Homo sapiens: one gene and its partners. The protein of the gene in region 3 binds, or shares a complex with, the protein of the main gene of each other region. Each region holds a gene or a part of one and is shown on either strand. Other genes may lie near its edges.

The links.
Region 1: ZBP1 (region 3) and AIM2 share a complex: the UniProt entries of both Homo sapiens proteins name them as parts of the AIM2 PANoptosome complex.
Region 2: ZBP1 (region 3) and RIPK1 share a complex: the UniProt entries of both Homo sapiens proteins name them as parts of the AIM2 PANoptosome complex.
Region 4: ZBP1 (region 3) and MEFV share a complex: the UniProt entries of both Homo sapiens proteins name them as parts of the AIM2 PANoptosome complex.

The regions. Positions count from the first base shown.
Region 1 is NC_000001.11:159,073,716-159,081,388, reverse strand, and holds the start of AIM2 (interferon-inducible protein AIM2), read left to right. Parts: upstream 1-4,622; 5' UTR 4,623-4,756; intron 4,757-4,762; exon of another isoform or gene 4,763-7,202; intron 7,203-7,673. UniProt on the Homo sapiens protein: Sensor component of the AIM2 inflammasome, which mediates inflammasome activation in response to the presence of double-stranded DNA (dsDNA) in the cytosol, leading to subsequent pyroptosis.
Region 2 is NC_000006.12:3,078,338-3,085,903, forward strand, and holds part of RIPK1 (receptor-interacting serine/threonine-protein kinase 1), read left to right. Parts: intron 1-2,641; coding exon 2,642-2,779; intron 2,780-3,597; exon of another isoform or gene 3,598-4,323; intron 4,324-4,747; coding exon 4,748-4,976; intron 4,977-6,921; coding exon 6,922-7,071; intron 7,072-7,566. UniProt on the Homo sapiens protein: Serine-threonine kinase which is a key regulator of TNF-mediated apoptosis, necroptosis and inflammatory pathways.
Region 3 is NC_000020.11:57,610,042-57,617,607, reverse strand, and holds part of ZBP1 (Z-DNA-binding protein 1), read left to right. Parts: intron 1-1,139; coding exon 1,140-1,364; intron 1,365-2,027; coding exon 2,028-2,096; intron 2,097-2,547; coding exon 2,548-2,721; intron 2,722-4,277; coding exon 4,278-4,445; coding exon of another isoform or gene 4,446-4,522; exon of another isoform or gene 4,523-4,717; intron 4,718-5,523; coding exon of another isoform or gene 5,524-5,540; exon of another isoform or gene 5,541-5,677; coding exon 5,678-5,881; intron 5,882-6,912; coding exon of another isoform or gene 6,913-7,075; intron 7,076-7,240; coding exon 7,241-7,459; intron 7,460-7,566.
Region 4 is NC_000016.10:3,253,151-3,260,541, forward strand, and holds the start of MEFV (pyrin), read right to left. Parts: upstream 3,484-7,391; 5' UTR 3,438-3,483; coding exon 3,161-3,437; intron 1,641-3,160; coding exon 1,008-1,640; intron 1-1,007. UniProt on the Homo sapiens protein: Involved in the regulation of innate immunity and the inflammatory response in response to IFNG/IFN-gamma.

The DNA of each region.
Region 1 (7,673 bases), on a different chromosome or scaffold from region 3:
TAGAAAGTTTGCAATTTGACTTCCAAAGATTTTTATGTGGTGCAAGCATTTCATTGTAATCAGACCCAGGTCAACAGATTTTATTTCTTTGCTAATCCCCTTTACAAAAACGTTAGTCCTATCTTGTAAGGTATTTTATTCACACAAATAACAGGATTTCTTTCATTATGGTATATTTTTAGAATGAAGGGGGGCAAATATCTTTTGTGGAATATTACTGTTGCCCTGATGATGAAGTTCCTGAATCTGAGTCTTGAGTATGATGATTCACTGTGATATTTATGTGTACATTCATGATAAGTTGAGTTATCATTATGAGTATAAAAATCTTCATAATTTCTTATTGAATTTTCTGTAGAGAAGATGCATGGAGAAGATAAAAGCAAGGTCCCTGTACCCTAATAGTTATGTATTTTGTGAACAAATGCTTTCATGAAGTCATAGATTATCTAGTATTAGACTGGCCTGTGGCTCTGTCTTTTGAACTCATGGGAATCACTGTGAGCCAAGATGAATAAGTTATAGGTTCTATTCCACTTAAGTAAAACATTTCAAGAGTCTGAAGATTTAAAGTTTGTTGAAGGCATATCAGAACTGTTCTTTTGTTTATTTACTATTAGAAAATGCAAAGGCATATGGACATTGCTTATTAGTTTAAATGCCAGAGATTAGATATTAAAGCAGTGGTTCTCTAAGTGTTGTGTCAAGACCAACAGCATCAGAATCACCCAGGAACCTGTCAGAAATGCTGGGGGTGAGGCCTAAAATCCGTATTTTTCACAAGCTTCCCCCAGGAAATTCTAATGCATGCTAAAGTTTGGAAACCACTGTTTAAAGGATACATTTTTTAAAATTAGCATTTAATTGCATTGAGGTGTTTGCTTTTACTTGTGATTTCTTTACAAAAGTTCTGAAATTGAGGCATCACTAAACAAGTCTGAACAATTCTTTATATGATGTATTTCTAAAGTATACCTTTTTAAGAAATCTATGGACAAGATATGAAAGTCTTCAGAGTCATAGATTTTCTCCTTATTCTTAAAACTGTTCAATGCAGTACTTATTAGATACCTTTCGTTTGCTCATAAACATTTATTGACCAAATCATTGTATTAAAAACCAATTAGTGGTTTCTTACAAGACTAAACATACTCTTATTATATCTTATTATACAACACAGCAATTGCATTCCTTGATATTTACCCAAAGTTGAAAAATTAAGTCCACATAAAAACATGCACACAGATATTTATAGAAGGTTTATTCGTAATTGCCAAAACTTGGAAGCAACCAACGTGTTCTTCAGTAGGTGAATGGATAAACAGATAAATGGAGACAATGGAATATTTTTTAGTGCTAAAAAGAAATGAGCCATCAAGCCATGAAAAACCATGGAGGAATCTTAAATGCAGATTACCAAGTGAAAGAAGACAATCTGAAAAGGCTATATACTGTATGACTTCAACTATATGAAATTCCAGAAACAGCAAAACTATAGAGACAGTAAAAAGATCAGTGGTTGCCAGGATTTGTCGGGAGAGAGATGACTAGACAGAGCACAGAGGATTTTAGGGCAGGGAAACCACCCTGTATGATACTGTGAGGGTGGATACTCATTATACATTTGTCCAAACCCACAGAATGTACAACACCAAGTGTACCCTAGTGGCAACTCTGGAGTCTGGGTGATAATGATGTGTCATGCTCAGTCCACCCTGGTGGGAATGTTGATAATGGGGAGGCTGTGCATGTGTGAGGGAAAAGGGTATATGGAAACCTGTACCTTCAGCTCAATTTTACTGTGAGCCTAAAACTGCTTTAAAAAATAAAGTCTACTAAAAAGAAAAAAACTGGAAAAAAAATGCAAAGTGACATGCTTTTGTGTGTGTTCTTTCTCATTCATCAAATTCGGTATTTATTTGATAACTTGCTTTTTTCTCCATTCGCTCTTGTTTAAATGCTTATTAGCTGGTTATTATTCATCGGGGCATAAACCTGTATATTTCTTATTTTTTTTCTCTCCTGTTTTTCCATTTTATTCTTTTCTAGGCATACTTTTAGAAAGAGATCTTCAGCTTTATCACTCTATTAGCTTTAAAACTTTTCTGCTATCACATTTAGAAAATATATTTATAAAATCTCTTCTGTAATTTGTTCATTTTTTACAAGTATTAGCACTGTCTTTTTGTTTCATGGATGCAATGTCTTTTCTTATCTCTCTGATGACCATATATATTTCTTCTTCTACCCTCTGCTTTGTCCTTAAGTTCCTTCTTCTGATTTGTTTTCTGTTTTTTTTTTAAGTTGGAGGCTTTTCTGAATGTTATTTATGTCTGTTTACTCATATTTAAGAAAGAAATGTCCATACATGTATACACACAAAACTGACTTGAATTCTTTTTGCGTTGGCCTGGTTTATTTATGAGTTAGTTTAATTATAGGATTGGCACGAAAGGGCCTGAGTCTTTGTATTGGAAAACTCAAAATGTCAGTAACGGTGAGAGTTTTTCCCTTCTTGGGCCAGTTGCTACAGTAGGAGCCTCCAGTCTTCTGCTTATGGCATAAACCTTGCTGTCAGTACTCTAGAAGTCAGGGAGGAAAGGGCTTGGGGATCCCACTTTTCTCCGTGAGACTGTTAACAAACCTCCTTTTTCAGCACAGTTGCCTCCTTTCCCTTCTGTGTCTTGTGTCACCAAGTTGGGTATCTCTCTGATTAAATTTCTTGGTAAAACAAAGCTGGACGATGAGTACTTGTCTCTCTGCCCCAGGTGCAGCAGTGTACCTGCTCCTCATTGAGACCACTTCCCAGCTTAATCACTTAACTCACCTTTTACAGGACCTGAAGCCTCAAATCAGTACGCCTCTCTGGGGTTGGTGCTTGTTGGGTTCTTCCTCAACAGGGAGCTTTCTCTCGTTTACTCAGTAGGTTACCAAATTCATACACTTCACATCTTTTTAATTCTTACATATTGTTCTCTTTGGTGTTCTTTCGCCTTGTGTGATCCACTCATTCATGCATTCACTCATTCAACGAATATTTTCTGAACACCTTCTCTGTGCCTGGCACTGTGTCAGGTGAAGTGGATGCAGTGAGCCAGTGGGCAGAAATCTCTTCCCTCATGTGCCTTACATTTTAGGAGCATGAGGCAGAGAATAAACAAACAAATGACATATACCGTATGTCAGATGATGGTCAGTAACACGTGTGGGAAAAGATAATGTGGGGAAGAGGTAGAGAACATGCTGGTCAGAGAAGCCCCACAGATAAGGTGCTATTTGAGCTGAAAGCTGGCAAAAGTGTAGAAACAAGCCTTGCAGTAGAAAGTGAAGGAGGTCCTGCAGCTCTGGGCTGATTACCTGGGCATGGTTAGGTGCTCTTCCTCTGCTCCTTGAGCATCTTGAGCATGCTTTAATTATAACACTTATCATCATGTCCTATTGTGATTATTAAATCACATGTCTGTTTTCATGACTTGGCAGAGCCGCTCAACATCTGGAACTTTGTCTTACTAACTTTTATATTCTCAGAATCTAATACATCATATTAGATGTTCAGTGCATAATTGTTAATTCAATGAATAAGAAAGGAAAACCTCAAGTAAATTGCTGACTAGAATCAAGCCCTCAAGCTCTGAATTTAGGGTTAGGAGCCTGGGTTAGGAAGAAAGACTGTATATATGCTTTTGAGGCAAGCAGTCAGTGAGGGAATGAGGCATGATTACTTGCAGGTGGCTACAAGCAATAAAAATGCGGTCAAAAAGGTTAGCAGAGGGATTGCCCCACTAGTAGATAGGAACTGTTACAACAGCCTGTGACAATGAAGACAGATTGCAAACTTCCTACTTAGGCACAGATGAGAATGTAACACAGAAGAAACTGGCCGCAACTGGTTAAAGCCAAGATGGTCGAAAACTTGGCTGACTGCTGACCCTTAGCTTCATTATGCCCTTAATATCATAAAACTTCCATGGGGAAATTCCCACTCCCATCATGCACCTGACGCCATGACAGTTCCGGATTAACCATCTTTAGTCAAGAAAAGGGTGGCACCCCGATTCCGGGAATTGCCCGCCCATTTCCCAGAAAACCCCTCCCCTTGATTACAGAGTACTCCATACCTTCATTGTGCTTATTCATATAGTACGTGAACCACATTGCCTGTGACTCAAATCTTTGAGTGCCTGCACTCCTCCCTTGAGGGTGTCGTTGGTTTTGCTCCACAATAAAATGTCTATACTTTCGCTTGGGTCTCATTTTCAGATTCTCTTATGCTTTGAAGACAAGAACCTGCACTGCCCTACTGGCAACACTTTTAGATACCCTCTGAGATCAGTGTGCTTGTTTATACCAGAAAAATGTCATCACCAGGCCCCTTAGTCACAAAGTGTATCAAGAAGTCATCTGCGGTCATTTTTTACAGTTTCTAGGCCACTTTCTGTTTCCAATCAGTGTAGTTCCTATGTGGCATGACTCAGATACAAGTTTCTATAGACATTTTCTTCTGTGGCTGCTAGTGAGAACCCAAACCAGCTCAGCCAATTAGAGCTCCAGTTGTCACTCCTACCCACACTGGGCCTGGGGGTGAAGGGAAGTGTTTATTAGGGGTACATGTGAAGCCGTCCAGAAGTGTCAGAGTCTTTGTAGCTTTGAAAGTCACCTAGGTTATTTGGGCATGCTCTCCTGAGTCCTCTGCTAGTTAAGCTCTCTGAAAAGAAGGTGGCAGACCCGGTTTGCTGATCGCCCCAGGGATCAGGAGGTAAGCACCATAGAGGAGCTGGGTTAGAGACGAGAGACTTAACCGTTTCTCTGCTGAAAAAGACAACTGAGGAAAGGCCAGCCATGCTGTGCACACCTCTGAGAACCTGAACCTGCAAACATGGACATCAGCTCTGAAAGGATGGGTTCATTTCTCTTTTATTCACTTTAGCCATGTCCTCTGGTGTCTCTGAGCTGGTGTTCCTTAAGCTTCGGCTTCCTTTGGGGTTTGTCTATCAGCCTATTTGTAAGGCTGACTTTTATGCCAATAGCAAATACAAGCATTTTTTAAGTTAACAGATATTATGAAGTAAAATGCAAGTTTTTCATTTATAAGGCAACATAACTTCAGAGAAAAAACTGAGTCAATCACATAAAATGTGATTAAAATGTGATTGTTATTATATAAGAGGGTTATAGGAAGATTAGCTTCTTATGGACAAGTAGAAAAGTAGGAATCATCCAAGCTGATTGTCACAGTAGATATTCAACAAAGGTAGTGTCCTTCCTTGCTTTCATCAGTAGGATGGGGGCATTTGGATGGCTTTATCATTGCAAATATTTTTAATGTATTCCTTATTTTGAAAATGGTCCTGATAATAGTTTTAATTTTCACTCATGAACTCTACATGTATAAGTAGAGTTTCTCCAGCGCTTACCAACATATAGGAAAAAACATTATAAGGCCATTAACAGTGATAGTTTAGAATTTATTAACATTGACTCTACTGATGGGGGTATTCAAGCTTCCCTAAAATTCACAATCAGTTATTTTCAGCTCATAAACATCTTTTCCTGTTCTTTGGCTTATTTCTTCCACTTTATATGTTGCTGCTCTGGAAGTCATTAATTGCTAATAATGTCAAACATCTTTTTTATGTTTATTGGATATTTGAGCAAATTGCTCATTCACATCTTTTGCACACTTTTCAAATAGACTGTTGTTTTCTTATTGATACATGGTTCTCCATGTATTCCAAAAGCAAAACCTCTATTAGCTCTCTCTCTCTCTCTCTCTCTCTATATATATATATATAGCAGGTATAGCCATATATATATGTGTGTGTGTGTGTGTGTGTGTGTGTGTGTGTGTGTGTGTATTGCAGGTATCTGCCCAGTTTTTGCCTTGTATAATCACTTTGTTTAGTGTGTGTGTGTGCACGGATGTGTGTGTTTCCTACAAAGAAATTGAGAATATGCATGCAATCACATTTGACAAATTTTTTTTTTCTGGCTTGTCCTTTTTGTGCCTTATTTAAGGAACCTCCTTCTACTTCAATGTATTGAGAAATTCTGTGTTTTATTCAACATCATTACTATTCTATTTAGATAATTAATCCAACCAGATATATATTTTGTGTATGATATAAGAGAAAGGCTGAATATATCATTCCCTGTGTATTGTCATTTGTCTGAACACTTTTTATAGTTGGCCATTCTTTCCTTGTGATTTTTAATGCCACTTTGATTATATACCAAGCTTTAATTTACATGTGGTCCTGTTTCCACACTCTATTTATTAGTTCATTTTTTTCTACGCCACTGCCATACTGATTTAATAATTATACATTTGTAGTAAGTATTGATACCTAGTAGTAGGGATAGTACATCCTGATAAACATATTCAACTTGTTTTGCAGGTTTTTGTCTTTATTTTTTTCATTTAGGTTTTAGGATCATTCTGATAAATTCTATGAAAAACCCTTTGAGATTTTGGATAGGAGTTTATAGATTAATTTGACAACACTGCTGTCTTCATTTTATCAAATCTTCCCATTTAAAATATCAGACATACACCCACTTAAGTAGGTCCTTTAAATCTCCCAATAAAGTTTTATAAGTTTCCCTTTAAAACTCTTAAATATATTGTATTCGATGTTCTTATGTACTTTGTAGTTTTGTTGCTATTGGAAATTACTTTTTTTATGTAATTTTTTTCTCTCTTGGAGTGGTACTAAAATAAAGGAATGCATTTCTGTATATTAATCTTATAGTTATAAACTGTTGAATTATTATTTATAATGTTTTGTGTATTATTTTGGATACTATACATAAACAACTATATTACTACAACGTGATTTTGGCAACAAGTTACAAAAATAGGTTGATGGACAGAATAAAGAATCCAGAAATAGACTCACTCATATTTGGACAACTGATTTTTGCAAAGGTAAAAAAAAAAATCATTAAAAATGACAGTCTTTTTAACATATGATTCTGGGAAAATTCATATTCATATGAAAAATAAATGAACTTTGAATCATCACTTATATCATATACAAATTAACTCAAAGCAGTACATACAGCCAAATGTGAAATGATCAAACCGTAAAATTCTTACAGGAAGACATAAAATCTTCTAATCTTGAGATTGGAAAAGATTTCTTAAATAAGACACTGAAAGCATGATCCATGAAAGAACAGATTGATTAATTGCACTTCATCAGGTATATGTATATGCCAAAATTTATCAGATTGTATACTTCCAGTGTATGCACCGTGTTGTATGCCAGTTATGCCTCGATAAATCTATTTTAAAAATAACAGGAAAATGTATCCTGTTTCCTTTTTGTTGTTGTTGTTGTTGTTGTTTTGAGATGAAGTTTCGCTCCTGTTGCCCAGGCTGGAGTGCAATGGCGCGATCTTGGCTCACTGCAACCTCCACCTCCCAGGTTCAAATAATTCTCCTGCCTCAGCCTCCTGAGTAGTTGGGATTACAGGCGCCCACCACCATGCTCGGCTAATTTTTGTACTTTTAGTAGAGATGGGGTTTTGCCATATTGGCCAGTCTGGTCTCAAACTCCTGACCGCAGGTGATCCGCCCACCTTGGCCTTCCAAAGTGCTGGGATTATTACAGGCGTGAGCTACCGCGCCCAGCTAATGTATCTTGTTTTCTGAGAATTCCAGAGGTGTTGTA
Region 2 (7,566 bases), on a different chromosome or scaffold from region 3:
AAAAGGTGCATGTGAACAGAGCAAGACCCTGTCTCTGAAAAAAAGAGAAAATCTTCCTTGCCTTTTACTGCCCTGAGAGTGGTCTCTTCATCCTCTCGATCCTGTGGACAGTCCTCCATAGTCTGTGTCTTAGGAATGTGATTGGCTGTTTACCATACCTGTCCGCTGCTCTGCAATCTACAGTTCAGAGACAAGCCCTGTCTTCATGATGCAGACATCATCTGATGTAGAGTATATGCATGATGGGATGACATTAAATATGGATTAATGAAAGGATATACACTATAAATGACCGTGAGAGCAGATAGAATATTAGTGGTTGCACTTTGATACCATTCAACAAAGTTTTATTTTAAATTAAATATAGAAATTATTGGCAACAACACTGGATAGGATTTAAAACAAAAATAAAAATTGTTTACCAAAGTCAAATGATTTGAAAACATTTTTAAAAGCTTATGTGCCTGTTAAGATGAAGGCCTTGCGCTAGTTGCTCATGAATCAATAGCTAATATGACGTAGGAGAGTAAAAGGAGGCAGATAGCTAAATAAGTGGTATGGTGTGATGGGGTTTTTTTTTTTTCTTTTGTAAGAGAACAAGGTCTCACTGTGTTGCCCAGGCTGGAGTGCAGTGGCACAATCATAGTGCACTGCAGGCTTGAACTCCTGGCCTTAAATGATCCTCTCACCTCAGCCTCCTGAGTAGCTGGGACTATGGGCATGAGCCACTGCACCCAGCTGTGTGGTGGTATTTTTTTTTTTAGAGGAGTCTCGCTCTGTCGCCCAGGCTGGAGTGCAATGGTGCAATCTCGGCTCACTGCAACCTCCACCTCCCTGGTTCAAGCAACTCTCCTGCCTCAGCCTCTTGAGTAGCTGGGATTACAGGCGCCTACCACCATGCCTGGCTATTTTTTTAATTTTTAGTAGAGACAAGTTTTCACCATGTTGGTCAGGCTGGTCTCGAACTCCTGACCTCGTGATCCGACTGCCTTGGCCTCCCGAAGTTCTGGGATTACAGGCATGAGCCACCGTTCCCAGCTGATGGTGTTTTGATAGACATACTCATTGCTGAGGGAGTACACATGAGAGGCACCCACTCAGCCTGGAATAGACAGAAAAGGCTTCCAATGTGAAGGACATGTAGACGTTTTGAAGCAGAGAATTAGAGAACAAGTGTTCTAGGCAGAGAGAATACCATGTAGAGACTGCCAAATTTGGGGAACTGTAAATTCCTGGGTTTGGCTAGAGCATAGATTGCACAGGGTATGGGGAGGGGTGGCGGGATATGGCTGCCTTTATGGCAAATACTCCCACTTTTCCACTTTCTTCTCCCACCCCACAATTGCCAAGCCAACAGACATCTCACAAAAATACCCTTGGGAAGGAGAAGAGGTGATCACTTATACGCATGGTATTATAGTTTGATCAGATTGCTCTCCACCCCAGAACTAGAGAAGATCAGCTGTTTGAAGTAAACATTTTGATTGGGAAATAAGTCTTTGGTCTCCCATCCAAGTACTAACCAGGCCCAACCCTGCTTAGCTTCTGAGATGAGAGAGAAATCATTGGGGACATGAGGCATTGTGCAAGATGAGGGAAAGTTCAGGTGCACCTGTTTGGACTCAGTCAGGGCATCAGGAGGACCTGAGAGAGAAGCAGAAAGAGAGGAGAGAGGGGGACCAACTTTGCTTACTCAGAAGTTTTTCCTAAGTCCAAAGGTATACCAAGGAAGAAGAGAAAACATCTTTTCTGCTACTTTCTGTATGGTGGTGATCAAGCTATTAACAGTGTAGCTCTGCTACGTTATGTCATAAATATGGTTTGAGGGGGAATCTCACTTCTATCATTAAAATTTTTTTCCTGTTAACCAACGACCAAAATACATATACATTTTTAGGAAACATCTTGTTTGTATACTGATTTTTTATTGTTAAGCAAAACTGTAATTTAACCACTATAATAGAAACTGGAATTGTTTCTGTTAGTATTGATGCTCACATAACAAGAATACAATTATAAGAACCAGTGACCTGAGACTCTACAGAAGCCTGAAGTATCTGCTACCAGGTCATCAAATAGATATTAATTCACTTAAGCGTAGTTTTAACATCATGTTTATCTCAGATTTTTCTATGATTGTAATCAGTGTGAACATGTTCCCTTGTATTCTTTTTTCTCTTAATGTTATTTTACACGCGACATTTGCATGGCATTGTTCATGTCCTTAATGTAAACTTAGTATGATGTCGTGTGAGTATCCCACAGAAACTGCTTGCTCGTATATTTATTCATCCATTCATTCAACAAGCATTCCAGGTACAATCCTAGGTTCTAAAGATACAGTCCTAAATAATATATATTTTTGTTCTCAAGGAGCTTAATTTTATAGTATTTTATGCATTACCAAATTATTGTGGGATTTTTGTTTTTACACTAACAAAATACAACACGAATACCCTCTGCCCCCCCCCGAATGAAATCTTTCTTGTTTCCCAGTGACAGCAGTACTGTGGTGCACCTGCTGGAAGGAAACCTGGTAACCTTCTCCTCAGGCTCAGATCCCACCACCCTTTCATGAAACAGTTGCTTTGGCCTATTTGATAACCTTTCCATTTCATAGACTTAATATCACTTGTTTTAGATGAGTACTCCGCTTTCTGTAAAAGGAAGGATAATTTTGGAAATCATTGAAGGAATGTGCTACTTACATGGAAAAGGCGTGATACACAAGGACCTGAAGCCTGAAAATATCCTTGTTGATAATGACTTCCACATTAAGGTAAACCATCATCGGTAGGCTTCCAGAAAGTTGGGTGATTTTAGTTTTAATTCTCCAATGTAAATCCATTCTCGTACATTGGAGAAGCTAAAGGAAGACCTAGCTCAGCTTATAACTGTTGATGATGGTGCCGAAAGGCTCTACCGGTGATTGAGAGGAAGGCTGCAGGCTTGATGGGATCAGGAGATAACTGTCAGGATAACTCATATCTTTTGGGGGAGGAGTGGAGTTGAATGGGGTAGATGAGAAGACCTCTTTCCTAGACTGTGTTTTTTCCTCTGTTAGAAACATTTAGAAACATTCAAGGGTTGCCCTTTTCATCCTGGAATGGGCCATTGGTGTCATAATGTTCTCCAGGAAATCTGTGTCACCAAGACTCTCCTCCTCTGGAAATGCAGGGGAATGTGAAGGTGTGTGCGGAAAATCCTTAGAGTTCAGATATGGCCTAAGAGTGAGATCAGCGGCCGGGTGCAGTGGCCCACGCCTGTTATCTCAGCACTTTGGGAGGCTGAGGTGGGCGGATCACCTGAGGTCGGGAGTTCGAGACCAGCCTGACCAACATGGAGAAACCCCATCTCTACTGAAAATACAAAATCAGCCGGGCGTGGTGGTGCATGCCTGTAATTCCAGCTACTCGGGAGGCTGGGGCAGGAGAATCGCCTGAACCGGGGAGGTGGAGGTTGTGGTGAGCCGAGATTGTGCCATCGCACTCCAGCCTGGGCAACAAGAGCGAAACTCTGCCTTAAAAAAAAAAAAAAAAAAAAAAAAAAAAAAAAAAAAAAAAAAAAATCAGCAGTGCATCAAAAACCTCTACTTTGAAATTTTGTTTTATATTTGTATTCGATTGTTTACTTCTGTCTGTATTTTAAAAATCAGTTTCCTTTGAACACATTCTTTCCATTGTCGTAAAGGGAACAAGGGAAAGGGATTTTTCTTTTGTTCATTCAAGGGCAGGATTTAGCTAGGGGGAGTGTCATATCTAATTGGCTTCTGCAGCAGGAATCCAAGCACAAGAATCCAAAAGGGGAAGCGGAAGGGGAAGCAGCCCTGGGGGAGGCACCCAGGAGCTGCTGACACAGGGGCCTCTCATCACCAGCAGGTTCTGCGTCTAGCGCTTTGTCCTAGTCTTGGACAAAGGGCTGGGAATAAAAATTCCTTATTCATAACCTATCTTCAAATTCATGACTTCCCTCTTATGTCGTGGGTTAGAATCTGTGAATTTTAGGTACTCATGTGCCACAGTTCATCCCCACATGCTTGCTTGGATTCCTGGAGGCAGAAGTGGAACTGGCACCTATATTCTCTTCTGAACTGTGCTGCCCTGTCATTTTGCCCTGCCAGCACTGTTCTTGTTCTGTGTCTGACCTTGCTATTTTTCTCTCTGCTTTTTTGTCTGTTTTTCTCCTCCTTTCCACCCTATCTCCTCTTAGGTTCAGGCTACAGCTCAAAACAAGCAACACTGCAGTCCTTATCCTCAGTGTGTCTTTGGGATCCTTGGACACTTGCATCCATGGGCCTCTGGACGCCATTTGGGGAAATAGAAGGTGTAGTATTTAGCCACTGTCTGCTGCATAAATGTGCAGAGAAGAAAATAACCATTTTCCCCCCAAGCCCTAGAAATAGTTGAAAAACATACGCAGAGTCAATGGGGAATGAGAATAAATATGTTTGGTTGTTACTGTTCTTGTCAGAAACATCTTCCGCTTTTCCCCTCCCCCTTACTGCATAAGGAATACGATACCAGAATTTCATGTGAACGTTTCCTGGGCGACATTTTACAAATGGCTGAGGAGACACACAGTTTCTATGAGTCTGTTGAGAAGTCGCTGTTTTGAACCTGCCCAGTGCAACCATTTCTGGAAAATTTACCGTACCTTATGTATAATGGATAAGCCCAAAATTGAAAGTCAGATCTGATTTGCTTACGGCCTTCACCAAACAATCCCAGTGGCTCAATGTCTTTCGCAGATCGCAGACCTCGGCCTTGCCTCCTTTAAGATGTGGAGCAAACTGAATAATGAAGAGCACAATGAGCTGAGGGAAGTGGACGGCACCGCTAAGAAGAATGGCGGCACCCTCTACTACATGGCGCCCGAGCACCTGAATGACGTCAACGCAAAGCCCACAGAGAAGTCGGATGTGTACAGCTTTGCTGTAGTACTCTGGGCGATATTTGCAAATAAGGAGCCATATGAAAGTAAGGCATTACTTACTTTCCACTGCCGTCCCCTCAGCATCTACACGCACTGTGCCTGGAACTAATAGGTGCCCAGTAAATTTTTGTTGAATGAATGAGTAATCCCATTTAGGAATCAGTGATCATAGGATGAATAGGAACCTCGATAGTGTGTCATTAGCTGGAGAGGTGCTGTGAAATTCCAGGGTTCTTCCTAGACAGGAAAGTTGATTGTTTCTGCTTGTGAGGACTTAGCCTTTCACACTACAAGGCATACACTTCATACTTTCACTCATTCACTTGCTCCTTCATTCAAGAATTATTTCTTTTCAGTCCCTACTGTGGGCACTTGAGTCGGCATTGGGAATATAAAGATGAGTAAGTCGTGGCTTGTGTAGGATAGAGACACTCTGCAGTTTGTTAAGTGCATAAACTGATGGATGTTGTCCTACATACTCTTCTTGGGTGATCATCAGCTCCCATGGTTTGATGATCATCTCTTTGCAAATGCTTCTTAAATCTGTGTCTCTGGCTCTGGAATGGATATCCACTTGTCTTACAGTCAGATCCATCGCAGGTACCAGAGGAACCTCCAAAGCAGCATCCCCCAAACACATCCTGTCGACACTGTCCTGCAGCTCGCCCCGCTTCACCCCTCTTCATATGCTTGGGAAGTGGCATCGCCATCCTTTTACCAAGTTGTTGCCCAATAAGAAACTTCAGAGTCATCCCAGACTCGCCCTTGCCCCTCTCTCCCACATTCTATCAGATCTCAAAACCTGTGAATTCAAGATATATGTATGACTCAAGATATATCTGCAACCCATCTGCCTTTCTCTGTCTCCACTGGCCTCTGCTCAGTTCAAACCCTCCTCGTTTCTGCAGCAGGCTCCTTCCACCGTCCACCATTCATGTGGCAGCCAAAATGGTCGTCCTAAAAGGCACATGCAACCCTCTCCCTCACATATTGGAAATCCTTCCCAGATGCTCTGTGGTCTTCAGGATGAAGTTCGAATTCCTCAGCGTGGAATAAAAGGCCTTCATGTTCTGGCCTTTGCTTCTCTACTGGCCTCGTCCCTAACCCTCCCTTCTTTGTCAGTGTGCAGTTACACTGAGGAATTTGTGGGATGCGTCATGATCTCTGTAACTTCTAGTCTGTTGATATCCTGCTTCTCTTCCTGGAGTCCTCCTCCTTAAGTCTCCCTTTCCCATTCTTTACCTGCTAATTTTTCTGGACTCAACAAAGCCTTCCTGGACCTTTTTAGTCAGGTTTGTGCTACTGGAACCCCTTGTACATCCTTTTTTTTTTTTTTTTCCCGTGAGACAGAGTCTCATTCTGTCGCCAGGTTGGAGTGCAGTGGTGCAGTCTCGGCTCACTGCAGCCTCCACCTCCCAGGTTCAAGCAATTCTTCTGCCTCAGCCTCCCGAGTAGCTGGGACTACAGGTGCACACCACCATGCCCAGCTAATTTTTATATTTTTAGTAGAGACGGGGTTTCACCATGTTGGCCAGGATGGTCTTGATCTCTTGACGTCATGATCCGCCTGTCTCAACCTCCCAAAGTGCTGGGATTACAGGTGTGATCCACCATGCCCAGCCTCAGCCTTCTTGAATAGCAATGATCACTCTGTGTTTTAAGTCACTCTCATTAAACTGAGCTCCTAAAGACAAGGACTGCCCTGTATTTGCTTTTGCACATGGAGCATGCCATTGGCCTTGCCCACATAATCTTTTTGTTCCATCAGCAGGCAGCTTTGTCGAGAATTTTGTTTTATCTGCAGACATTAAGATATTGTTTGGTCATCTCTGTAGTGGAATATGTCAGCTCCTTGTCATAAGGCCATTCCACTCTATGGAATGAGGCAGCTGTACCAGAGGCTGAGAAAAATGAGCAGTATTGTTCAAGTTCTGTCACCTTCCTGCCTGAGAGAGGAGCAAGACCTGAAAGAAAGTCTTTGCTTTGTAGATGCTATCTGTGAGCAGCAGTTGATAATGTGCATAAAATCTGGGAACAGGCCAGATGTGGATGACATCACTGAGTACTGCCCAAGAGAAATTATCAGTCTCATGAAGCTCTGCTGGGAAGCGAATCCGGAAGCTCGGCCGACATTTCCTGGTAAGAGCATCTTTTCTGACTGTGTAGGATGCATCCTGTGTGGTGATTTTCCTAGTAACATATTGTTAGGAACTTGGTTTGAATCCTCAGAAAACTGAGTTCGACTTGACTTGTGGTTTTAAACTGATTTTCTAGATTTCAAACATGTTATTCAGTGCAAAGAAGCCCTCTCTCTCAAAAGCATGATGGCACATAAGGCCTTCTTGTTTCCTTTTTTTGTAATTAACTTTTTAACTTGGGTTTAAATATACGTAACATGAAATTTAACATTGTAACTGTTTTCAAGTGCACTGTTCAGGGGCAGTAAGTACAGTCCCATAGTACATTCACTTTCCATCGTCTCTCTCCCTGCCCCTGGCAGCCCCTATCCTACTTTCTGTCTCTGTGAATTTAACTGCACTGGGTGCCTTATATATAAGTGGAATCATACAGTATTTGTCCTTTTGTGTCTGGCTTACTCCACTTGGCATGATGTCCTCGAGGTTCATCTGTGTT
Region 3 (7,566 bases):
TAGGATTACAAGTGTGAGCCACCACTCCTGGCCCCATTCATTCATTCATTCATTCACTCAGTCACTCATACATTCAACTGCCATTTCCTGAGCACCTACTGTGTGCCCAGCACTGTGCTAGATGCTGAAGGTACAACAGTGAGCCATGCAAGCACAGCAGGGGACACTAGGGGAAGTTCTGCAGGGGACCCACACACAAGCAGCGTCCCAGCCACTCTGGGACACAGAGACAGGCTTTCCCTAGGAAGTGGCATCTGAGGAGGCCTGGAGGTTGAGTAGACATCATACAGGTTGGGGCGTGAGGGAAGGGTGCTCCTGGCAGCAGGAACAGTGTGCACAAAGGGGCTGGGGAGAGTGGGGCTGAAGGGAGCACAGACAGGCCAGCACTTGGAGGGAAGTTGGGGGCAGGTGCAGGCCAAGCTGGGTGGTTGGCAGAGCCAGATCTGGAGGGTACCTGACTGGAGCTGGCGGGCCAACGGGGAGCCTATCACTGTACCTAGGAGATGGTGAAGAGGAAGGGGGTGGTGCTGGCAGAAAAGAGAGGAGTGGGGGGATTCCAGAGAATCCAGGAATGGCATTTCCAGGGCTCCACGACTGGGCACTGGGGGAAAGGTCTGTTTCTGATGTCTGGTCGGTCTCTGGCTTGGATGGATAGTGGCGCCATGGATGGATGGTGAGCTGAGAGGAGGGCACTCCCGGGGAGGATGGCGATGGGCATCAGGTAAACCCAGGCAGGCGTCCCAGGCAGGACTTGCCTTTGCGCTCCCAGGTCCCCCTGCCTCCCTCTGGCTCCGTCCTTCTGCCCTCTACTCCCCTCTGCCCTGAGGACACCTGAGAGCTGAGGAACCCCACTGCCCTCTGGAACCCACACCCGGGGAGGGCACAGGCGAGGTGGCACCTCCCCTGGCCACCAGGCTGCGCAGCCAAGGCCGTTTCTGATCAGCCTGCATGCCTCCCTCTGGGCAGATGCAGCTGCCCTACTGCTCTTAGGGGGCATCTGCTGGGGTCCTTGCCCTTTCCTCTGCCCTGGACCCCTCTCAAAAAGGGGCCTACGTGCCTCCTGGAGCCTCCAGCCTGGGCTCAACTGTGGGGACCTGGGAGACTCAGTTCCCCTCTCTGTCCCCCGCTCGCTCCCCCAGGCCACCTTGAACAAAGAATCCTGCAGGTGCTGACAGAGGCTGGCTCCCCGGTGAAACTTGCCCAGCTGGTGAAGGAATGCCAAGCACCCAAGAGGGAGCTCAACCAAGTCCTCTACCGAATGAAAAAGGAGTTGAAAGTCTCCCTCACATCCCCTGCCACCTGGTGCTTGGGCGGGACTGATCCTGAAGGCGAGGGTCCTGCAGAGCTGGCCTTGTCCAGCCCTGGTAACTGCCACCCCGGGGAGGCGGGTCTGACCCTGCAGGGAGCATCCTGGCAATGGACAAGCACAGATTTGAGCCTGGGTTCGAATCTGAACTCTGCCACATGGGAGCTCACAGGTTTCCTCTCTCTGTGCCTTGGTTTCTTTTTCTGGTTGATGGAGCTCACAGCAGGGCTGCTTGGTAGGGGTTGCTGAGAGGAGGCCCTGCGTCAGGCTCAGCCCAGCCCTGCACACAGGAGGTACTCTGCAGAACACTAACAATTATAATAGAAAATCATCATGATGGAGACAGCAATGACGCCATGGTCCCAATCACAGAACATATGCAGTCCCACCAGCCCCCCTTTTCTAGCTTTACAGCCCACAGCCAGAAGGAGCTGCCATTTATCATGCACTTAAGATTAGCCAGGCACTGTTTTGGGGTTCACCCAGCCCTCACACAACCCCAGGAGGCAAAGGAGGCTGAGCCCCGGAGAAGTTAATCGGCAGGAAGCCGCAGCTGCCAGGGCGCAGGCAGGATTTGAAGTCAAGTGTGTTGAACTCTGGAGTCTGAGTTTGCAACTACCGGCATTGCCACTTACCCCTAGGGAGCTGCCCACCTTTGTGGGGTGGAGGCCTGGTGCTGTCTTCTGTCCCCCACCCCTCTGACCCATCTTTCTTTCTGCAGCCGAGAGGCCCCAGCAACATGCAGCTACAATTCCAGAGACCCCTGGCCCTCAGTTCAGCCAACAACGGGGTAAGTTTTTGCATGTCCCTTCAGTTCCCGGGACACAGGATCCCACTCCCCAGGAACCCCAGGCCCTCCTTGAGGGTACAAGATCTCACCAGTGTTCAGGGGCCCTGTCCCACCCACCAGGCAGCTCCCATACAGTGTTCAGAGCCAAGACCCAGCCCTCACAGTGGGAGAATCTGAATGGCTGAGCAGTGATTTCTCCAGTCAGACAATAGCTGACCCTCACCATGCACCCGCCACATGCCAGGCCCAGCGCAGAGCACTCTGTGCACATCCCCCACCCTCAGGGCACCTCTGCGGTGCGTCATGATGACCCCGTTATCATGACACCCATTTTACAGATGAGGAAACCAGGCCTTGAGGGGCTGGGTCCAGGGCCACACAGCTAGGAAGCGGTGGGGCAGATGCAAACCCTAGGACTACTCCCTAACCACCTGGCCATCCTGCCTCCCAGAGGAAGACATCTACAGGTTTCTCAAAGACAATGGTCCCCAGAGGGCCCTGGTCATCGCCCAAGCACTGGGAATGAGGACAGCAAAAGATGTGAACCGAGACTTGTACAGGATGAAGAGCAGGCACCTTCTGGACATGGATGAGCAGTCCAAAGCATGGACGATTTACCGCCCAGGTAGGCCCCCGGCTGCCTGTGTCTGGGCTGCAGAGGGAAACCATGACACTAGTGCTTGGTCTTTGCTGGGTGCTCTGCTGAGCAGCTCACCGGAAACTGCTAGAAGCTTCTGGAGGTCCTACCGACAATTCACTGCAAGGGCTTCCAGGAGGAAGGGGTGTGCTGGCAAGATTAACCAGGGACAGCTTTTTGGAGGCGTGGCCCAAGGTCTGCAGTTGCAGAAGGCCAGTGAATGGGACGGAGGTGGCCCATTCCCAATGTTCTCAGCTCTGGGGTGCAGGGATCAGTCTGAGTTTGGGAATGGTTTTCTTTGAGCACTTTGCTCAAGTTGGGGTTTAAAAGTTGGCAGAAGAGAAGGCAAGACTAGTCTTGGACCCCTACCGGCTGGAGCCCCAGGGTCAGCGCAGGGTCAGCTTCCCCGTGAGACCTAACACACACAGGGCCAAGATCCAATAGGTGCATGGCATTCTCAGGGGTCCTTGAAAATGTTTTAATTTTAATTTCATTTAAAATCAGAGGAAATGAATACTACAATAATAATGAATATCTAAAAATGGGCCAGGCACGGTTGCTCACGCCTGTAATCCTAGCACTTTGGGAGGCTGAGGCGGGCAGATCACCTGAGGTCAGGAGTGACCAGTCTGGCCAACATGGCGAAACCCCGTCTCTACTAAAAATACAAAAATTAGCCAGGTGTGGTGGTGGGCGCCTGTAATCCCAGCTACTCGGGAGGCTGAGGTAAGAGAATAGCTTGAACCTAGGAGGCAGAGGTTGCACTGAGCTGAGATCGCGCCATTGCACTCCAGCCTGGGCAACAAAAGCAAAACTCTGTCCCCCAAAAAATAAAATAAAATAAAATTTAAAAATCCAGCCTGGGTTATCCTTGCTATACAATGTAATTTAAATATTTGTGTATGGGGGAAGGGCCCACAAAGGCACAGGAGCTGAGACCCTGGAGGGTGGTGATGGGCCCCGCACAGTCTGGGCAGGTGCCTGCCTCAACCTCTGCAGGGCTGACTCTGCTACTCATGACGGGTGCCCGAGGGGGTCTCAGCATCCTAGGGCTGCTGTGAGGAAGGAATAACGCGTGACAGCCACCAGATTTTAAACACTAGTGACAAATTCAAATATTGAAAATGTCATGGGAGCCAAACACGACCGATCTGGCCCAATGGGCTGCTGTTTCTCGGCCATTACTCAAGGGAAAAGGGCAATGGTGCAGGTGCTCGGGGGTCCGGGCTGTGGCTGCCCCCTAGGGAGAGCAGTGTGGGGCCCCTGCGGTCCTCCCAGCCAGCAATCATGGCGGCCCAGCCATGGAGGCAGCAAAAGACACAGGTAGGGTGACTCACAGTGGCTATTTTCAAGTGAGGCTCCCTCTGAGGTACCTGTGGTGTCTGTTAAACACCCAGCTCTGGCCTCCCACTTGGCCCTACTGACTCGGAACGCCCAGGGTATTTTAACAAGCTCCCCAGGAGAATTTGGTGCTGCCGACTGGTATTGGGAACCCCTGACCCATAGACAGTGGCAAAGGGATACAGTTGAATATTATTTTGCAGAAGATTCTGGAAGAAGAGCAAAGTCAGCCTCAATTATTTACCAGCACAATCCAATCAACATGATCTGCCAGAATGGACCCAACAGCTGGATTTCCATTGCAAACTCCGAAGCCATCCAGATTGGACACGGGAACATCATTACAAGACAGACAGTCTCCAGGGAGGACGGTAAGTCACCCAAGAGAGCCCAGGGAGGGGACCTCGGTGGGGAGCCACCGGATCCTCTGGGTGGGGGCAAAGGGTAGGGATGGGGAGTGGGGGGATTCTGCCCTCCAAGGGGAAAGGGTTGCTTCCAGACCCCCACAGTCCACCTTTACGGCCGTCCTGAGAATGAGGACACCTGGATCAAAGCTCTCCTGATTTCCCTGTACTCTGATACTTTCTACCTCATTTTAAAGTTTAATTTAATTTTTATTTTTCTAATAAAATTTTAAAATTAAGATGGGGTATCTCTGTGTTGCGCCTGACCTTATGCCTCATTTTCAATGGGGTCCGGTGTTTTTCATGAGAAACAACTCAATTGCCTTTCCCTCCGCGGAATGCTACAGGGGAGGTTATTGTAGTACCGTATTTGTTCTGAGACACGCTACTTTCCCCCACATTTTAACAGGCTGGAAACTGGGGTGCATCTCACCACCTGTGGCATCCTAGTTTGGATGAAATGCGGTGTTGCACTTTGAGCACTTACCCTGTGCCGGGCACTGTGGCAAGAGGGGACAGAGCCACCTGTCAGCCCAGCCTTGTCACCTGTGAGTGACAGCATCAGCCCCAAAGTCGGGACACTCCCTGTAACCTTGGGAGAACCTTTCCCCACTGTCAGCCTCAGTTGTGAAATGAGGAACCTTGTTCTAGAATCTAGATCATGGTTTCCCTAGCTTTAATCTTCTGAGCCCCACCTTCCTGATTCTGGCCATACCCATGTCTGATTATTTAATTAATGTTGTTGAGTAGTGCACCTTTTTAAAAATTTATTTTAAAACAATTTTATAGTATTATTTTAAGTGTAAATCATGAAAAACACCATAAAAATAAATGTTGTCCCTGGCAGTTAAAACACTGCGGGAGGCTCTGAGCCTTTGGTGTTGGCACCAAACGAGACTTGGTCCCCATGAGGTCAGAAGGCTCGGGAGTGACTGGGAATCAGAACAAGGAGCTCATTGTTTGGGTTTGTGAGTGTCCCTGCAACACCCAGGACCAGCCCCGCTCCTGAGAACTCAGGGAGCCCCAAAATGAGCTATTCCGCCAGGTCCTCTTGCTCTCTAAGCCAGAGCCTGAAGTCTTTGGCCGCCAGTTCGATGGTGTCCAGGAAGAATTCAGAGGACAGGCCTGCGTGTGGTGGTGAGGGAAAGGAAGAAGCCTGCAGTAATCTCCGGTGAGGCTGTGCCACTGTCCCCTGCCAGGTTCCGCCGGTCCACGCCACCTCCCTTCAATGGCACCAGGTGATTCCTCAACTTGGGGGACCCTAGTTGATCCCTGGGGGCCCCAGGACATCCACATGGAGCAGTCCATACTGAGACGGGTGCAGCTGGGACACAGCAATGAGATGAGGCTCCACGGCGTCCCGTCCGAGGGCCCTGCCCACATCCCCCCTGGCAGCCCCCCAGGTAACTGGGATCTAGAGGCCAGACCCAACTCTGCCACCCCGTGGGTCCTCACTGGAAGGAACTGGAGCCAGAATCTTTTTGGGAAGAGAAGCATGATGGGAAATTCCTTTCCTTCCACCAGGCAGCTGAACCAGAGTAGAGCAGGTGGGGCTTTTAAAGCTAGCACTCTAGGCTGGGCGCGGGAGCTCACACCTGTAATCGTAGCACTTTGGGAAGCCAAAGCGGGTGGATCACCTGAGGTCAGGAGTTCGAGACCAGCCTGACCAATATGGTAAAACGTCTCTATCAAAAATACAAAAAAAAAAAAAAAAAAAATTAACCGGGCATGGTGGCTTGCGCCTGTAGTCCTAGCCACTCGGAAGGCTGAGGTAGGAGAATTGCTTGAACCTGGGAGGCAGAGGTTGCAGTAAACGGAGATCGCACCACTGCACTCCAGTCTGGGTGACAGAGTGAGACTCCATCTCAATAAATAAATGAATAAAATAAAGCTAGCACTCTGGATCCCCATCCCCTACGACCCACTGCAGGAAACCTCAGTTTCCTCATTTGTAAAATGAGCAGAGAAGCAGAGGCTGGGCCAACTGGAGCAGGGTGATGGTTTGAGACTGGAATGGTGTTTAGGGAGGATGGAAGACAGGTGCCGTACTAGGAGCTGTGGCTGCAGTGACCAGAGGGCCCCAGGCAGAGGCCTCCCCCACACTGGGAATGCAGAGATGGGCTGGGGGAGAAGAACCAGCAGAGAAGCCAGAGAGGGAGGAGGAAAGCAGAGGCCCCGGGAAAGGAGTCTCCAGAGAGGGGCCAGGCTGGTGAGACCAGGGAAGCATCTGTGGGGTTCAGCGAGAGGGATCGTGGTAACCTTGAGGGGGTGGTTTCTGGGGGCCAGGGAGCAGAAGAGGTCTCGGGGGTGGAGGGGGCGGGACTCAGTGTGGATGATTCTTCAGAAGTTTGGGTGGGAAAGGGCAGAGCCAGATGGCAGGAGCTGGGGCCAGGCTGGGAGCCCCCATAAGATTTCAACCAAAAGTGGGGGCCAGTGTTCCAGTGCAGTGGGAAGCAGGCAGCAGAGGAGAGAGGAGCTGAATCCCAGAGGAAGACACTGACGTCCAGATCAGCCGGGCGGGATCAGTGGGGCAGACCCACTGCGGGATCAGTGGAGCAGAAAGACGCTTCCCAGACAGCACAACAGCACGAGCGGAGGTGTGGCGGGTGGAGGTGTGGCGGGCAGGCACAGGCTGTGCTCCTGGGATGGTGTGGGCCACTGGTGGGAGATCTGGGGAGGAGGGTGAACCAGGCTGGGGGTCAGGGTTCCCGGCCACTGTCCAGCTGCTCCTGGCTCCAGGCCTCTCTCCCTTTGACCCACAGTCTCTGCCACTGCTGCCGGCCCAGAAGCTTCGTTTGAAGCAAGAATTCCCAGTCCAGGAACTCACCCTGAGGGGGAAGCCGCCCAGAGAATCCACATGAAATCGTGCTTTCTCGAGGACGCCACCATCGGCAACAGCAACAAAATGTCTATCAGCCCAGGGGTGGCTGGCCCAGGAGGAGTCGCAGGGTCTGGAGAGGGGGAGCCAGGGGAGGACGCAGGTGAGCTAGGGGGCAGAGTGGACCCCTGTGTGTTCTCTCTCTCTCCCCACCTTCCACTCATTCATTCATTCACTCTCATCGATCATTCGCTAATCTCTGGTTTCCCG
Region 4 (7,391 bases), on a different chromosome or scaffold from region 3:
AAAACCAGAGGAAGTTAAGATCAGAGCAAAACCAGTGCAAACTGGAAGAGGTGACTTCCAGTTACCTTAAGATCATTTACACATTGTTATAAGGCTAAAGGTCCCTCCCCTAAAAGAAGATGGCCAGGGTTTTGTGTCCATGCGATGTAGGAAGAAGCATGCTGGGGACAGCGCCTGCACATATGGAACCCTGCCCTGGGCCTGCTTACCTATCTCCCTTCCCCTCCCTGGACTCTAAAATCGCCCTGCCTCCCATCCCTGGCAAGCAGACGCCTGCAGAGGTGAGCTCCCCTTCTCCATTCTTTGGCCACTGATAACACCTGATTGCCTTTTTCAATCGGACATTCTTTCTTTCTTTTTTTTTCCCCCCAAAATGTTTAAGAGACAGGGTCTTGCTCTGTTGCCCAGGCCGGAGTGCAGTGGCACATCCTCAGCTCACTGCAGCCTGGAACTCCCTGGCTCAAGCAATCCTCCTGCCTCAGCTTCCTGAGTGGCTAGAATTACAGGCGTGTGCCACCATACCCAGCTAATTTTTTTTTTAGTTTTGTAGAAGTGGAGTCTGGCTACGTTGCTCAGGCTGGTGTGCAGTGGCATGATCTCAGCTCACTGTAGCCTGGAACTCCGTCTGCTCAAGTGAACCCGAGCAGCTGGGACTACAGGCGCGTGCCACTATTGTATTTTGTAGAGATGGGGTCTCACTGTGTTGCCTAGGCTAGTATGGAACTCCTGGGGTCAAGAGATCCTCCCGTGCAGGCCTCTCAAAGCTCTGGGATTACAGGCGAGAGCTACCACGCCCTGCCCAACCTTTGGGTTTTTATTTTTTTAATTTCGTTTATAGAGATGGCGGGGGTCTCACTACATTCACCAGGCTGGTCTCAAAGTCTTGGCCTCCAGCAATCCTCCCGCCCTGGCCTCCCAAAGCGCTGGGATTACAGGCATGAGCTATCGTGCCCGGCCAGCCATTCTTTCTCTGCAGCCGATATAAAGTAGGAAAGAACACAATTTACCGGTGACCGAATGTTCTGGATTTCCAGGGCCTTCCTTCAGGTCCGCAGATGCCCCTCCATCCGGAGTGGGCCTTGCCCGGGGTTCTGTTGCCGAGTCCAGATTCGCAGCTGTCTTTTCCTCTAGAGTCAGGAGAATTTCTGGATTTGCGGGCGCCTTCTCCCCTGTAGAAATGGTGACCTCAAGGCTTCTAGGTCGCATCTTTCCCGAGGGCAGGTACACTTCGAAGGGCCTGCACTCCTTCTGCCCCGGGGCGCCCCCCGCCAGCCCCTGCAGCCTCCCCGCGGAGCTGGCGTTTCTGCGCAGCCGGACCTCGGCCTGGCCCCCCTCTAGCGCCCTGCAGGGGCCGGGGCTTCTCCCGCCCGGCAGGGCCGGGCTCCGGGTCCGAGGCTTGCCCTGCGCGTCCAGGCCCTCCGAGGCCTTCTCTCTGCGTTTGCTCAGGGGCTTCCTCGACAGCCCCCTCCCGGCCTCGGGCTGGCTGCACCGCAGGCTGGCAGCTCCGCCCCCGTACGGCCGAGGGCCGTTCCCCTCGTTCCCCTCGGGGTGGTCTGGAGTCTTCAGGCTCCTGGGCTTGTTCTCCCCCAGGGAGCTGGACGCTGCGGAATCATCTGTGCCGTTTTCTTGTGTGGAATATTCTGGAAGGACAACCAGATGCAAAATGATGAAGCTGTCCCACGTTTAGGGCCCAAGATTCAGGGCAGAGGAGAGAGAATCCCCTTGGATATTAAAGTTTAGAAATTGAGGAAAACAACGGGCCGGGCGCGGTGGCTCATGCCTGTATTCCCGGCACTCTGGGAGGCCGAGGCGGGAGGATCACCTGAGATCAGGAGTTCAAGACCAACAGGGTGAAACCCCGTCTCTACTAAAAATACAAAAATAAGCTGAGCGTGGTGGCGCATGCCTGTAATCCCAGCTTCTCCAGAGGCCAAGGTGGGAGGATCATTTGAGGTCAGGAGTTCGAGACCAGCCTGGCCAACATGGCAAAACCCCGTTCCTACTAAAAATAAGAAACTCAGCCAGACGCGGTGGTGCGCACCTGTAGTCCCAGCTACTCGGGAGGCTGAGGCATGAGAATCGCTTGAGCCCGGGATGTGGAGGTTGCAGTGAGCTGAGATCGGGCCACTGCACTCCAGCCTGAGTGACAGAGCAAGACTCCATCTCAAAAACAAAAGTTCAGGACTTCCTAGACTAGACAATGGCAGTCAATTACCATTCAGTAAGAACATGCTTGATGTTGCTATGTATTTCTCTCTCTCTTATTTTATTTTTTGAGACAGGATCTTGCTCTGTTGCCCTGATGTGATCTCAGCTCACTGCAACCTCTGCCTCCCAGGCTCAAGCAATCCTCTCACCTCAGCCTGTTTTCTGTTTTTTCAATAGCTGAAAATACAGGTGTGTGCTACCACGCCTGGCTCATTTTTTTGTATTTTTGGTAGAGACAGGGTTTCACCATGTTGCCCAAGCTGGTCTCAAACTCCTGAGCTCTAGCAATCCACCCACCTTAGCCTCCCAAAGTGCTGAGATTATTTATAAGTGTGAGCCACCATGCCTAGCCTATATTTCTCAAATAGTACTTTTCAAACGTTTTAAGCAGGACAACTGTTTCAAATAAGATCTTACACAGGTCAGCAAAACCCAGATTATACGCTTTAAAAATAAAAATAAGCCGGGCACGGTGGCCTATGTCTGAAATCCCAGCACTTTGGGAGGCTGAGGCGGGAGGATCACTTGAGGTCAGGAGTTCGAGACCAGCCTGGCCAACATGGTGAACAGCACTGAGAAGATTCTATACCAACCCCGTTCATATGATTGCATAGCAATCCCTTTTTGCTAACCTAGAGATGTTTGTCTGACATGAGTATTAATCATAAATGTAGTGAAGAAGTCTCAAAGAACAGGTGTTCCAGCTCCTGCCTTTCGTGACCCTGACCTGCTTCTTAAAAAACCCATTAGGAGCCTGAAGGAAGTTTACTAACCCAGTTCCAAAGGCCAGAGTGAAGAAAGGGACGTTCCTGAACTAAAGTCATCTGGATTTTGGTAGACCTGAGACTCCCAATCCCCAGGTCAGAGTGAGCTGCTCTGAGCTCCTGGTCCCCTTTCCCACAAAGCAGCCAGCACTCAGCACTGGATGAGGAGGAGGCCTGGGCCCGCTTACCCTGAATGGCTGCCCTGTGGAGCTCCTCGGCCAGCAGGCGCTGGTTGATGGCCCGCAGGACCTGCAGGGTGAGCTGCACGGCGTACTCTTCCCCATAGTAGGTGACCAGCAGAGTGGCCATCTTCACCGGCCTGGCTCTCTGGATCTGGCTCCGGGGGATCCTGGAGTGCTCCTTCTGCACACTGGTGTTCTGCAGCTTGAACTTGAACTTCTCGAAGTCATAGGGCACCAGCTCCTCCAGGGTGGACAGCAGATGGTCACTAGGGGTCTTAGCCATGGTGCTGAGCAGGAGAGGCTCGAGCCAGCTGTCTGGCTTCTGGTAGGAAAAGAAGCCTCTGTCCTTGGTGAGCAAGAAAAGGCAGGTTGTGAAATAGCGGAAAAGGCACAGGAAATGCTCTGTGTCTTGGTGGGAACTGAGACTAAGGGTAAGGGTGTGTCCATGCCGGCTGTGTTCTCTTCTTACAGGTTCAGAGGATTTTCCAGCTGGGAGGGCTCCATGCCTTGGCAGACATGTGCCCCCACACCCCTCCCAAACCCTGGACCTCGCCTCCACACTAGACCACAGACAGATGGGCAAGTCTGCAAGGGAAGGTCTGGGATTGGATTCCAGACACCCCCTCCAATCTTCCTTCCTGCCAGGATCTGGGGCTGGCAGAGCGGGTGAGTGGGAACAGAGAGGACTATGCTGAGGGCCCGCCCTGCTGGTCAACTGTTCTCCTCCAGACTCGGGGTTTCAGGGACCTTCCAGAGCCAATGGCACAGGACGGGGGAAGGGGTGGGCACTGAATACAGTCCTGTGAGCTTTGCCTTTCCTGGCCCAAGAAGGCAAGTGAGGCCAGAAGGGCACTGCCAGGAGATAACTCTTGCCATGCCATCACCCCTGTTGATCCGGTTCCAGTTGACTGGTTCTTCCAGCCACATGAAGGACTTGAAAAGCAATGCCTGGACCACCAGCCTGACTCATCTGTTCCCAGAGCTGACTCAGTCCTCGCTCCCTGGAGCCAGAATGCTCTTCCGTGCACATTCATTGAACATTCTAGACAGTGTGCCAAGATGCTGGAGCTACACGGGTGAAAAGGCACGGGTGTCCTTCAGCTCATATGTGGTGCAGGGCCCCAGAGGTGGCTTTGAAGCTAACAGAAGTTACATGTTGGGGGCAGGGCACAGTGGCTAACGCCTGTAATCCCAGCACTTTGGGAGGCCGAGGTGGGTGGATCACCTCAGGTTGGGAGTACAAGACCAGCCTGGCCAACACAGTAAAACCCCATCTCTACTAAAAATACAAAAATTAGCCAGGCATGGTGGCACGCACCTGTACTCCCAGCTACTCAGGAGGCTGAGGCAGGAGAATCACTTGAACATGGGAGGCAGATGTTGCAGTGAGCCGAGGTTGCGCCATTGTACTCCAGCTTGGGCGACAGAGCGGGACTTTGTCTCAAAAAAAATAAATAAATGAAAAATTACATGTAGGGTGAACTGACTCCTCACTTACCTACTTCTGACCGTTGCATACCCTAATTTTTTTATTTTTAGATAGGGTCTTGCTCAGTCACTCAGGCTGGAGTGCAGTAGTGGGATCTTGGCTCACTGCAACTTCTGCCTCCTGGGCTTGAGCAACCCTCCAACCTCAGCCTCCCAAGTAGCTGAGACTACAGGTGCATTCCACCACATCTGGCCAATTTTTGTATTTTTTATAGAGACAGGGTCTCACTATGTTGCGCAGGCTGGTCTTGAACTCCTGATCTCAAGCGATCCACTCGCTTTGGCCTCCCAAAGTGCTGGGATTACAGGTGTGAGCCACTGCGCCCGGCCAGAAGTTTTGTTAATAATGCAATTTACCCTTCACCAGCACTTCCTCGGCACCAGCCACCACTAGCTTTATAAACACTTCCTCCTAGAATCTCTGCAGCACCCTGCAGGGCTGCGTTTATCATCCCCCTGTGCAGCCAAGAATCTGTAGCTTAGTGACTTGCCTAGAGCCAAGATCCAAACGTCAAACCACTTCACAACATCGTCTCCTGCATGACAATAATTTGTGATTTTACTGTTAATGACTACCCATGGATGTCACATTTCCAGCTGACCACTGAGGTCCAGGATGGGTCACTTCCACAGGTCAGTCACAACATTGCGACGCCTAGCTGAACACCCAGCTCTGGGTGTGAGCTCCTCTGTGTGTGCCCAGCCTGGGATTCAAGGCTTTGATGAGTTCTGGTTGGTTGAATTTAACTTACTGTCCAGCTGGTCCACCTGTTTCCTATTTCACAGAGTATTTGGTGTTTTTGCATTGTTTTCATAGCTGACAACAAACATGCAGTTTGCTAGATCTTTCTGAGCCCAAACCCAACATCTTCCCTAAAAAAAGGGTGAATTGGGCTGGGTGTAGTGGCTCACACCTGCAATCCCAGCCCTTGGGAGGCTGAGACAGGAGGATTACTTAAGCCCAAGAGTTTGAGATTAGCCTGGGCAACATAAGGAGACCCTGCCTCTACAAAAAATAGAAAAAATATTAGCTGGGTGTGGTGGCACACACTGGTGGTCCCTGCTGCTACTCAGGAGGCTGAGGTGGGAAGATTGCTTGAGCCTAGGTTCAGGCTGCAATGAGCTGTGATTGCACCACTGCTCTCCAGCCTGGGTGACACAGCAAGACACCCTGTCTCAAAAAAAAAAAAAAAAAAAAAAAAAAAAAGTGGATGAAATGCACATTGATGGTGCAGACAGCAGATTTTTGGAATTTTTAGGCTGGGCCAGAAGAAGGGTGTTGAATGGGGTATCACTGGGGCCAGCACCCGTCCCTGACTCTGGACGGTGGCAACCCAGCACCTCCCAGGCAGTCTCCCACTACCAGATGGAGAAAGGATGAGACTGTGCAGTGACGCTGTGGGTGCTGTGTGATCCCATCTCGTCTGGTCAGAAAACTCCTCGGAGCTGATACCAAAACCCCATGACAGAATTGGGCAGGGAATGATACTTTCTGGTCTAAAGCAGGATATTTTGCAATTGCGGTGACACGTTTTGCAACAGAGGCTGCTCTGAGGCAGGACTTCTGGAAGGCAGTGTTTTGATGCCACTTTGGACTTTCTAGGGCAAGGCAGGCTCACAAAGCTTTTGTTTGGAGGGGTTCCAGTAATTTCTCACAGTGAAAATAGAATTATTGCCCTTCTAACGTCATTTAAGTGTTTAATAATCAAAGTGGAATGGTCATGGGCTGTCTTGTGTGCCCCTGCCATTGGATGTGTGACCTTATTTGGGGTGACATGGCAAATCTAAACCCAACAAAGCTGCTGCAAAGGGTCTACTCTCGGCTATTACTCCTGGGAAATGTGCGGCTCAGACACCACGACCTTCACTCCACTCCTGGTCACCAGGGGTTTCACTTTCTATGGCATTTACTTCTGCACATTTTGGGATTTAAAAAAATGAAGATTGTATTACTTTCGTAATAAGCAAAAAAGATAGTTTTAAAAAGTCTTTCAGACCAGGTGTGGTGGCGCACGCCTGTAATTTCAACACTTTGGAAGGCCGAGACAGGTGGATCACTTGAGGTCAGGAGTTCCAGACCAGCCTGGCCAACACGGCAAAACCTCGTCTCTAATGAAAATACAAAAATTAGCCAGGTGAGGTGGCCCGCGCCTGTAATCCCAGGTACTCCGGAGGCTGAGGTAGAACTGCTTGAACCTGGGAGGTGGAGGTTTCAGTGAGTCGAGATTGCATCACTGCACTCCAGGTTGGGCAACAGAGCAAGATTCCGTATTTAAAAAAAAAAAAAGTCTTTCACAATTAGCTTAACTTCTAAGGGAGTATCAGTCCCGTGCCCCTAAACCATCATGATAAAGGAGGTATATAGTATTTACTTATTTATTTACTTGATTTATTTTGAGACAGAGTCTCACTCTTATCACCTGGGCTGGAGTGCAGTGGCAAGATCATGGCCCACTGCAACCTCCGCCTCCCGGGTTCAAGCGATTCTCCTGCCTCTGCCTCCCGAGTAGCTGGCATTACAGGTGCCCGCCATTACACCCAGCTAATTTTTTGTATTTTTAGTAGAGACGGGGTTTCACCATGTTGGCCAGGCTGGTCTTGAACTCCTGACCTTGTGATTCGCCCGCCTCAGCCTCCCAAAGTTCTGGGATTACAGGCGTGCGCCACCGTGACCAGCCAACTATTTTTTCATAGATGATGAAATGTAGGCTTACAGGTAGGGTGACCAACACATTTTGTCTAGGAGCAA